2 separate regions of the Homo sapiens genome follow, and region 2 is linked to region 1. Evidence: fine-mapped expression QTL. A gene starts in region 1. The other region holds a variant in brackets. All regions are shown on one strand. Distances are between the middles of the regions.

Region 1 (5,385 bases):
AATGTGGATAGGTAAAAATAGAGCAATAGGAAAAGATATACCACAATATTGTGGTATATTTTTACCTATCCACATTACTTTGTTTGGGTGTGTCTCTGTGCTGTACCACAGGAAATTTCCCCTACATAATCACCCAGCTTACTAACTTACTATTATACTTATTTATGTATAGTCAGCTAGTCAACCTATTAAGTTTTTTTAAAAAATTTCAGCACTGATTATGTTTTCATTTCCAAAGTCTGTGTTTTGGTATTTTTTCAAGATGGTTGTTGTTACCTCATGCCCGCCTATTTCTGTTTCATATTATTACATGCCTGATGTTGGTTTATGAATTTACTTCTCTTTTGTTTTCCTTATAAGATCATTAAGTATACTAACTTTAAAGAACTTTACACATTTTGTTTTTTCATATTTGCTCAGGTGTGAAGTTCTTTTGATTGCTATTTGTTTTTGAGTTATTGTTTTTCTTGAATTTGTTAGCTGCAGTGCTGTTCCTCAAATCTTTGGTGATTCTTGCTTGCACTTCCGTCTTCCCAGGAATAATTCCCCATGTGATCATGGGTTGTCAGGGCCTCGTGGAGCATGGCACCTGCCCCAGCCTCACTATGAGGGCTGCTCCTAATTGAGGCTATAGCTTCTTCTCTGCTTTCTTCCTGAGGGATGTCTCTCCCTTCCTGCAAGAGGTATCATAGTACAACCATTAAAAGTGAAGGCTGTGGAGTGTGGCAGCCTATGTTCCAGTTCTAAAAGCCGGGTGATCTTGAGCAAATTCATTACTCTCCATGTGCCTCGGGTTTTCTCACCTGTGAAAGGAGGTTAATGGTTGAGCTTACCTCATGGGGTCAGAGCAATGATTTAATGACATTACCAATAGAAAAATGCTTGGCACCATATCTGGAGCACAGGAAACTCTCAATAAATGATAGCTGTTATAATTCCTTCATGTCATATAGAAGCCAATTGCTTGTATTCAAGTGTAATTAGACATTGATTCATATATTCTTTTCATTTTGTGTTTTCACTACTGTGGGTGTGGAGAAGGAGGGGAAGATTTCACCCTGTGTACATCTGCCACATTAAAACAGGACTTTCAATTAAAACATGATAACATTTACAATTTGATTTGACAATTATTCATGACAGATTAAGAACCTAAAACCCACATGTGAGATGAAGGATTCTGGACAGGTCTTTCTTAGTCATAGATGCTGGAAGAGAAATCATTTCTTTTAACAAGGTGGCTTTTCTAAGGCACAACGGTGGCAGAGAACCAGTGGACTCTTCCTGTACACAGAAAATAATTATAGCCATGTTTTTTTGCTTATAATTAATTATGAGTCAAGCATTCAGTATGGCTTATATTATTCCTACCATAGCTCTACAAGGTGCATATTCTAACATTTATTTACATACAATCAAACCAAGGCTCAGAGAAGTAGTGTCTTTTTGAAAATCACACAGCTGGAAATTGTAAGAGGAGGAATTAATCTATGGTTGAACAAGGAGCGGGATTTAGAGAATCCAGAGGGAGAAACTGATTTCAGGGTGGCAGCGAGAGTCCAAATACACTATATAAGCTGGGTCTCAGGAGGCCTGGGTTGCTGGGAGAAAGCCACTGGTGGGCAACTCAGCATGCAGGAGGGATCCATTCAAAAGCAACATTTGAGTTCCCGCACTTCACCTGGCACCGTGAGTATCAATAATGACCTACTGGGTTTCAGGCATGATATGCTCATTACCTCTTTAATCGTCACTAAAACACTGCACAAAAAGACTTACTATTCCCAGTTTAGGAGATTGAAACTGAGCATAGGAGGGCCCAGCGACTTCCCCAACTCCTTGGCACACACTCTTGGCAGGAGCATGGATTTTTCCTCTTTCCTCATTTCCCATCCGAACTCAGTGATGAATGAAATAGGTGCTCTGTGTGTAGAAGAAAGGGTATTGAAATTGATGCGACGGCCCCAGGAACCTGCCCACCATAATCTTCCCTCATGATAACCCTATCCCCTTTCCATAACCCACAATCCCCACCTCACTCCACAAAGCAGTTGCTTATTACCTCAAACCCAGTTTCTCTCCTGGAAGGAGTCAAGAAATAATTCCTTCTGCTGGGTGCAGGCACATGAAAGTGCTAAGGTCCACAAGAGACTGAATTTGGGCTAAGTGTTGCCAATTATAGCAATTTGGAATAGAAAATCATTTCAGGAGAAGATCTGGTTCCTCTCCAGTGTTGAGCAGGTCCTGTGAACTCTTCTCCTACGTCCAGCGGAGTGGCATTTGGTTGAGGCTGGTGCAGAACAAGACCACAAGCCAACCACATCCTAGGGTCTTGAAATAAAGACTTTAGAAAACAATACCTAACAACAGATCTTTCTTGACTTAAAAGCCTCAAATGGCAAATCACCAAGAAGACCTGAAAATGGGTTTGGGGACACGAGGAGGGAGCACAGGTCCCAGGCAGGCAGGAAGCATTATTTCTGCTAACCCTGTCTGATTATCCTGAAAATGGAGCACGATTAACTCCTTGCTTTGTAGCTGCCTACTGTGCCTGATTTGTAAGTCACAATCTAGAAGCAGGTTACTGTTGCATTCCATCATAGCCACTTCCTCTTGAATTGAGGGAGGCAGGGCTTGTCTTCTGTCTTCAGAGCAGGGCCTGACATCTCCCCAGAACAGACGTTTGAACAGAGCAGGCTTCTGAGGTCTCCAAAATGCCTGTCCCAGCCTCCTGGCCCCATCCTCCTGGTCCTTTCCTGCTTCTGACTCTACTGCTGGGACTTACAGGTGAGCATTGCATTGGGCTAGAACCCTTTCTCCCTGCTTCCTGGACCTAGCCTTGCCCCTGGACTTGCAGCAATTTCAGATAAGCACAAGCACTGCCAAGGAAGGTCAAGGACTGGACATTGTCCAAGAGCAGAAGATCAGGGAGCTGAGCACTTTCTCTGTGGATCTGCAGCTGGCTACCAGAGGCATCAAACCTTGTGAGGCTTCTGCCACCATCACAATTAGTTACATTTTTATAATATTTTATTTGACAAACACAGAAGAATCATTATTAAATCCTTACCTGTCTTGAGTCCTCCTACCCATTTTTGTGTGCCCTCCTCCTCTTTAAGAAGTTCCACATTTCATGCTTACAGCGTCCTATATTCCTTTCTTAGGGCTTCCACAACAAAGCACCACAGACTCAGTAACTAAAACAATAGACATTTACTTTCTTTCTTTCAGTTCTGGAGGCTGAATTGCAAAATCAAGATGCCAGCAGGGTTAGTTTCTACTGAGGTCTTTCTCCTTGGCTTGTAGAAGGCCATCTCCTCCATGTGTCTTGACACATGGTCTTCCTCTGTGTGTGTCTGTATTCTCATTTTCTCTTATGAGAACATCAGCCATATTGGATTAAGGCTCCCCGCCAGTGACCTCATTTAACTAAATTGCTTCACCCATTTATGCCTAGTGCTCCGTTATTGGATCACTAAGCTTGCGGGAGTTATTTATATCCTACTGCTCAAGGGCATCGCCAAGGTCTGATTTTTCAAATTAAAAAAAAATTGCAACCTCGGGCATAAATGGGTTAAAGACCTTGTCTCCAAATATGGTCAAATTCTAAGGCGCTGGGGATTGGGGCTTCAACCCATTCGTTTTGGGGGCACATTCAGCCCATAACAGGCACCACCATCTCCCTTGGTCATCTTGACTTTCCTCTGGAGAATTTATTTTCCCTTCCCCCAGGCAGACAGGATTGGGAGGTCTTTCCTGGTGCCACCTGAGAGAGCCCTGTTCACAGCTCCCAGACAGGCTGCCTGTCTTCACCCCTTTTTCAGACCATGCAGCTGACCCCCGGTCACAGGGCTGGGCACAATAGCCTCTCAGTTGCCCACTGGGCCCTGCTGTGATGTCATCTCACAGGTCTTAGAGGGCAAGGTCTCACTTTTCAAATTATTTTTTTTACACATACACTGTACCCAAATGACAGCAGTAATAGTTCAGCAATTGCTCTCTTCCTGTAAGGCAGATGCACTTCTTAGCATTTTGTGTGTATTAAGTCAACTAATCCTCACAGCATCCCTGTGTGGAAGCTATAACTCTTGTGCTCTATTTGCAAATGGGGAGTGAGGCAGAGGCAGGAACCTGTTCATTGTCCCCTACTTCAGTCCATGGAGCAGTTGGGATCAAGTCCAGGTTGACCAGTTCCAGAGTTTATCACCCTTTTAACCATGTTATGCTATGTGTAGAAATATTAGAAAATGCAGGCAAGCAAACATTAGATTAATAATCACCCATCACACCAGTCAGAAACAATCAGAGGTAAAACACTAGTGTATGTATGTTTTCCCAAAATGTTAAAAATGTGTTGGATGGTTTCTATGTGCCAAATATTTTACTGAGATTTTTAAATTTGTCATAATTGTAATTAATGCACAAAACAACCTTATATACTAACATGATAAGCCAAACTTTTATATATATTTGTGAATGTGTATATATACACATTATATACACATATATATGCACATGTGCCTATGCATGTACATGTACATGCACAGATGAGATTTCATTTTTAATCATTGGTTCTCTTTCTATTTTCAGTGAAATTTTTAACAAAATAAATATTTTATTTTATTTTTATTTGACAAAAGTATGTATACTTATGTACAACATATTAAGAAATATGCATACATTGTGGAATGACTAATTTGAACTAATAAACATATGCATTACCTTACATATTTATCATTTTTTATTGTGAGAACTCGTAAACTCTGCTCTCTCAGCAGTTTTCAAGAATACAATTCATATTATTAAGTATAAACACCACATTGTACAATAGATATCTTGAACTTATTTCTCTTATTTAAATTGAAATTTTGTATCCTTTGACTAATATCTCCCCAACTACACCCCCTCTCTAGCCCCCGATAAACACCATTCTACTTTCTACTTCTATGAGCTCAACTTTTTAGATTCTTCATACGTGAAATCATACAGTGTTTGTCTTTCCGTGCCTGGCTTATTTCACTTAGCAGAATGTCCTCCAGGTTCATCCATGTTGTTGCAAATGACAGGGTTTCCCTTTTTGTAAGGCTGATTAGAATTTCATTGTGCATATATGCTACATTTTCTTTCTCCATTTATCTGCTGATAGACACCTAGGTTGATTCCATATCTTGGCTTTTGTAAATAATGCTGCAATGGACATGGGAGTGCAGATATATGTGTGACATGCTGATGTCATTTCCTTTGGATATATGCCAGTAGTGAGATTACCAGATCAGATAAGAGTTATATTTTTAATTTCTTGAGGAACCTGCATACTGTTTTCACTAATGGCTCTACTAATTTATATTCCCACCAACTGTCTGCAAGGGTTCCCTTTTCTCCACA
Region 2 (5,385 bases), 22 kb after region 1:
CCCTCACCTTACCAGGGTGGGTTTTTTATCCACTTTTGGCCCTTTGCTAGCTGGGGTCCCCTCAGACCCTGGTCCTATAAGGGACTCACACGAGGACCCCCTCAAGGCAATAAAGGGAGGATTAAAGAGCTGAGAGGTACAGAGGGAGCAGCCAGCATCAGGCTCCCAAGAAGCCCTCAATAAATGGCAACTGGTTACAGCCTCTCAGCCCTCTAGGGATGCCCAATGCTGCTGGTGTCTTGATGACTTGACTTCTTCAAGTGACACCCTTCTTACTGTGCCCATAAAATGTTTGCATGTGGTAGGGAGCAAGTTAATATTTACAAATGCAAGTATGCCTAATATGTGTTTCCTGATGACTGCTATAGGAGGTGCAGGGTAATAATTAGCAATTTGGAGACACGTTTAGGACTCATCTACAGGGAGAAACTACCCTCATTTTTCTGATTCTCCAGTTTGTGTGCTTTCAGGACCCAGGATAGATTTCTGCCTGTTGGGGTGGCCTAGATCTTTGTCTCTTGTAATGAATTAACGATGAAGAAATCACCCACCTTTGGCTTTCTTAGTACTCAGTGATCATTGTTTTTGGACCCAACCTGGCCCAACTGAAGACCTAGATTCCAAGAAACCTTCCCTCTTTTCAAATTTGGGACTTGGCACAGATTAGACCTGCTAACTAAAAAAAATAATGATTGATAGGAAGGCCAAAGGAAATAGCATTTATCTGGGAAATAAAGAGTTGCAATTTGGGAACCCTGAGTCATGGTAGTCCTGAACAGTGTCCCATAGGGCAATGCAGGAAAAGTTTTGTACTGGGGACTTTCACAAAATGTTGTTTTTGAAAACAGTTCATTGCCTGGCAGAAATGCTAAACTGCAAACTCGTATGAATTGGTTACTTAATTAGGACACTCCAGGATGAGAGAAATCAAAATCCCATGTACCTTGACTTCAGTCCATTGTTATCCAGGTCTACAGCAACATCCTGTGGCTTGACCTTTAGCAGGTGTGAGTGCAATGCTCTTACAAACGCTTGACTCCATGTTAAAGCTTTAGCCTTAACTACTTCATTTTCTTTCAAAAACTGTACTGGAATATTTGTGAAAAGAATGAAAAATATGGAATAAATTCATAAATACACAAAGAGAGAGAGCTCTAGGTATATGTCAAGTCTGGATTAAAGACAGATCTGTGTTTATTTTTATGAAGCATCTTCTGACTTTGATCCAAAGCAAAACTTCTTCCATGGCCCCATTTAATCCTTGTTGCACCCCTGGGAAGGGAAAATGCTGCTGTCCCACTTTGCAGATGAGGGGCTGCATGTTCCAGGCCACCCCTCTCATGGGCTGAGCAGCCTGGTTGCAGGTCTCATGGTGGCGCCACTTTGCCATTGTTCCCTACTTTGGCTTCTGTAAACACCCTCTCTGAGGTTGGTGAGCTCTCCTGGGGAAACAGGCTAGCACCAGTTAATACACAGAGGGAGAACAATCAGTAACTTTGTTCCTGTGCCCAGATTGGTGGAAGTCACCCTATGTGGAGAGGAGGACTTTGAACTCAGACCTGGACTTCCCTCTGGGACCTTTCCCTACACTGTCTGACCTGGGGCTGGTCGTCACCTCTTCCAACCTTTGCATCCTGCTCTGTAAAATGAGAATAAGAACACCATCCTCTCCACATTATTAGAAGGATTAAAATTAATGTATCTGAAGGTTCTTAACAGTGTCACACACTCATCGTTAGTGATTGTCATCTCAGTCATGTCTCCTGTTTATCGATGCCCCTTTTGTAGCCAAACCCTCTGCCCCCGTGGTATTGGGCCCTGCGGCGAGGACCACACCTGAGCATACAGTGAGTTTCACCTGTGAGTCCCATGGCTTCTCTCCCAGAGACATCACCCTGAAATGGTTCAAAAATGGGAATGAGCTCTCAGACTTCCAGACCAACGTGGACCCCACAGGACAGAGTGTGGCCTACAGCATCCGCAGCACAGCCAGGGTGGTACTGGACCCCTGGGACGTTCGCTCTCAGGTCATCTGCGAGGTGGCCCATGTCACCTTGCAGGGGGACCCTCTTCGTGGGACTGCCAACTTGTCTGAGGCCATCCGAGGTAGAGGACCCTCACACCCAGCCCAAGCCCACACCTGGCTGTCAAGCCCACTCCCCTCTCCCCAGGCTGTTGCTCCAGAGGTTGAATGGCCTGTAATCTAATCCCTGACTATACTGCCCGCCCGCCATGCACCTAGGTGTGCTGGTCACTTACTATCATTTTATTGGCAGCGGTCAGGGGACCAGCAATCACGTGCCAAGCTCTGCGCTAGAGAGTTTCATTTATCTCACCAAGAACAACTACTATTA[G/A]TGAGTACCTACTATGAGCCAAGTCCCTATGTGCTCGGCGATTTCACTGATTTTGCTACAGTTCTTACATTCCAACTGCATGCCAGGGGTTGTGCTTGTAGATTTCACTCATTCTTAGCCTAGTAGGAGCTACCAGTCCTTGAGCACCTACTGTGCACCAGGCACTGTGCTTGGTAATTTCATTCATATGCAAAGAGCGCCCTCAATGTCTTAGCATCTGCTGCCTGCCTAGCACTGTCCTGGTGATGCCCTCACCGTGGTAGTGGGAGTTAAGTTATGGAGCCCTCCCTGTGATCTGTCTGTGCCAGAAGATCAGAGCTTCTACCCTGTGCTGTTTCAGTTCCACCCACCTTGGAGGTTACTCAACAGCCCATGAGGGTGGGGAACCAGGTAAACGTCACCTGCCAGGTGAGGAAGTTCTACCCCCAGAGCCTACAGCTGACCTGGTCGGAGAATGGAAACGTGTGCCAGAGAGAAACAGCCTCGACCCTTACAGAGAACAAGGATGGTACCTACAACTGGACAAGCTGGTTCCTGGTGAACATATCTGACCAAAGGGATGATGTGGTCCTCACCTGCCAGGTGAAGCATGATGGGCAGCTGGCGGTCAGCAAACGCCTTGCCCTAGAGGTCACAGTCCACCAGAAGGACCAGAGCTCAGATGCTACCCCTGGTGAGGTTACTCAAAATTTTTAAATTTTGTCTTTTTCTCTCATTTTAAAAGTAATATCCACACTTGCTGTAAAATAAGCTAGAAGTCTATAAATACAAAGTAAAATTTTAATGTCAGCTCCATCCCCCCAAATCCCACATGCGAAGAGTCATGACTAGTAAGAATTTGATGCACAAGTTAATAGAACTTTTGACATAAATATATGTTTAATTTTTTTTTTTTTTGAGACGGAGTCTGGCTCTGTCGCCCAGACTGGAGTGCAGTGGCGCGATCTCTGCTCACCGCAAGCTCCGCCTCCCGGGTTCACGCCATTCTCCTGTCTCAGCCTCCCGAGTAGCTGGGACTACAGGCGCCCGCCACCACGCCCGACTAATTTTTTGTATTTTTAGTAGAGATGGGGTTTCACCGTGTTAGCCAGGATGGTCTCGATCTCCTGACCTCGTGATCCGCCCGCCTCAGCCTCCCAAAGTGCTGGGATTACAGGCGTGAGCCACCGCGCCTGGCGTACATAAATATATATTTAAGGAGCAAAGAGGCAGGCAGGGGGAACCATCTTCTCATAGAGTCCTTTGCCTTCCCTTATTCCTTGAGAGTTGTTGTGCCCGTTTCTCATCAGCCCACCCTTGTGCTCCCTACTTTTTCTAACCTCTGCTTTGTTTCTGTTTCATCCAAACTTTTCCATCCTCATTTATGACCTCATCCCAGTACACCCTGACATCTGCTGTGTATGTTTCAGAAAGACAAATGTAGTTTAAAACTGTACCAGGCCTGGCGGCTCACGCCTGTAATCCCAGCACTTTGGGAGGCCGAGGCGGGCGGATCACGAGGTCAGGAGATCGAGACCATCCTGGTTAACACGGTGAAACCCCATCTCTACTAAAAATACAAAAAAATGAGCCGGGCGTGGTGGCGGGCGCCTGTAGTCCCAGCTACTCGGGAGGCTGAGGCAGGAGAATGGTGTGAACCCAGGAGGCGGAGCTTGCAGTGAGCCGAGATCATGCCACTGCACTCCAGCCTGGGCGACAGAGCGAGACTCTGTCAAAAAAAAAAAAAAAAACTGTACCAGGCCTGCAGGTGACCATGAATGGTCACAGAACGGACCTCTTCTGTGTCCTGATTGTGATATTTGAGCAACAATAATCACAAACCCCTCTGCAAATTTACTAAGTGCAAATTTCCATTCATCCATGATCTCTGTTTTTGCTTCAACCACCCAGTAAGTCTGGAGTTTTAAAGAAGGGGAAACTAGGACTTGGGAAGTCATGGGGGATGTTGTTGAAGACCTCTTGCCTTTAGATCGGGTTATTGGTTCAAACTAATTAAAGTAAATCTGGGTCCCTGAGGACAAGGTCAGTATCAGCCTAAAATGCAAATTTGTGCTAGTTAGAGAAACAGTCCTCTTCTGCTGGGCATTGTCCCATGGACCTGAAGTTGGCCTGTGTTCCACTCCGTATGACCAAAATATGTCTTACTTCCCTCTTGTGTAATACCAGGAGGAGTCTCAACTCCAGGAGACTTTTCAAAGGCCCAGGTTCCTCCCACATACCTTATGGTGGTTAGTCTTATCTGCTGGGTCAGTGCTAGGTCACGGATTTTTCCATGTCCCTGTCTGCTGGAAGAGTAAATATAGGAAATGGAGGGCAAAAAATATCTTCTATAATCAGAGATGTATGGAAGGCGTGTGATCATGTCCACAGCTAACTCAGTCATGCATGTACACGCAGTTCCAAATGGAATCCATAGTTGGGTGATCTTATGACTAAAGACAGCATAACAAAACCAGTATCATTATTACAGTTAATACAATTTCAAATTTTTAATCACTAAATTTCATAAAATTATTAAAACAATTCCCTTATATCATCTAAAATGGAGTATACATTCAAATTTTCCTCAAATTTCTTTTATGACTATCTTTCTGTGCACTAAATTTGGTTTTAATTCATATTTAAATGCTTTGCAGTATTTTTCTTTGAAACACTTGGGCCTCAAGAATTTTTGGGGGTGTTTTAAAAGTATAAATTCAATTTCCTCAGTAGTTTAGGGTTACTCATATTATTCATTTCATATTGGGTGAGTTCCGGTAACTCGTGCCTTTTGAAGAATTTTGTGTCCATTTTATCTAAGTTGTCATATTTTTGTGTGTAGAGTTGTTCATAATATCTCCTTATTATCTTTTTGGTGTCTGAAGGGTTATGGCGATATCCCCTGTTTCAACCTCATATCTAAAATATGCCATTTCTGTTTTCTTCTTCATCAGCCTTGCTATAGTTTTTTTCCATTTTATTGGTCTTTTCAAAGGACCACTTTGTTTCCGTGAGTTTTTAAATTGTTTTTGTGTTTCCAGTTTATTCATTT

The links.
Region 2: its variant is fine-mapped to the expression of SIRPG in whole blood (TOPMed, PIP above 0.99).

The regions. Positions count from the first base shown.
Region 1 is chr20:1,655,044-1,660,428 of GRCh38, reverse strand. SIRPG (signal regulatory protein gamma) reads left to right here and starts at 2,650. Exons shown (of 6, transcript NM_018556.4): 1 at 2,650-2,787. The coding sequence starts at 2,715.
Region 2 is chr20:1,632,909-1,638,293 of GRCh38, reverse strand. SIRPG (signal regulatory protein gamma) reads left to right here. Exons shown (of 6, transcript NM_018556.4): 3 at 1,789-2,106; 4 at 2,695-3,027. SIRPG-AS1 (SIRPG antisense RNA 1) reads right to left here and starts at 4,786. Exons shown (of 3, transcript NR_110090.1): 1 at 4,574-4,786; 2 at 944-1,088. RefSeq lists an enhancer at 2,379-3,204. The variant G/A (reference allele first, on the strand shown) is at 2,355.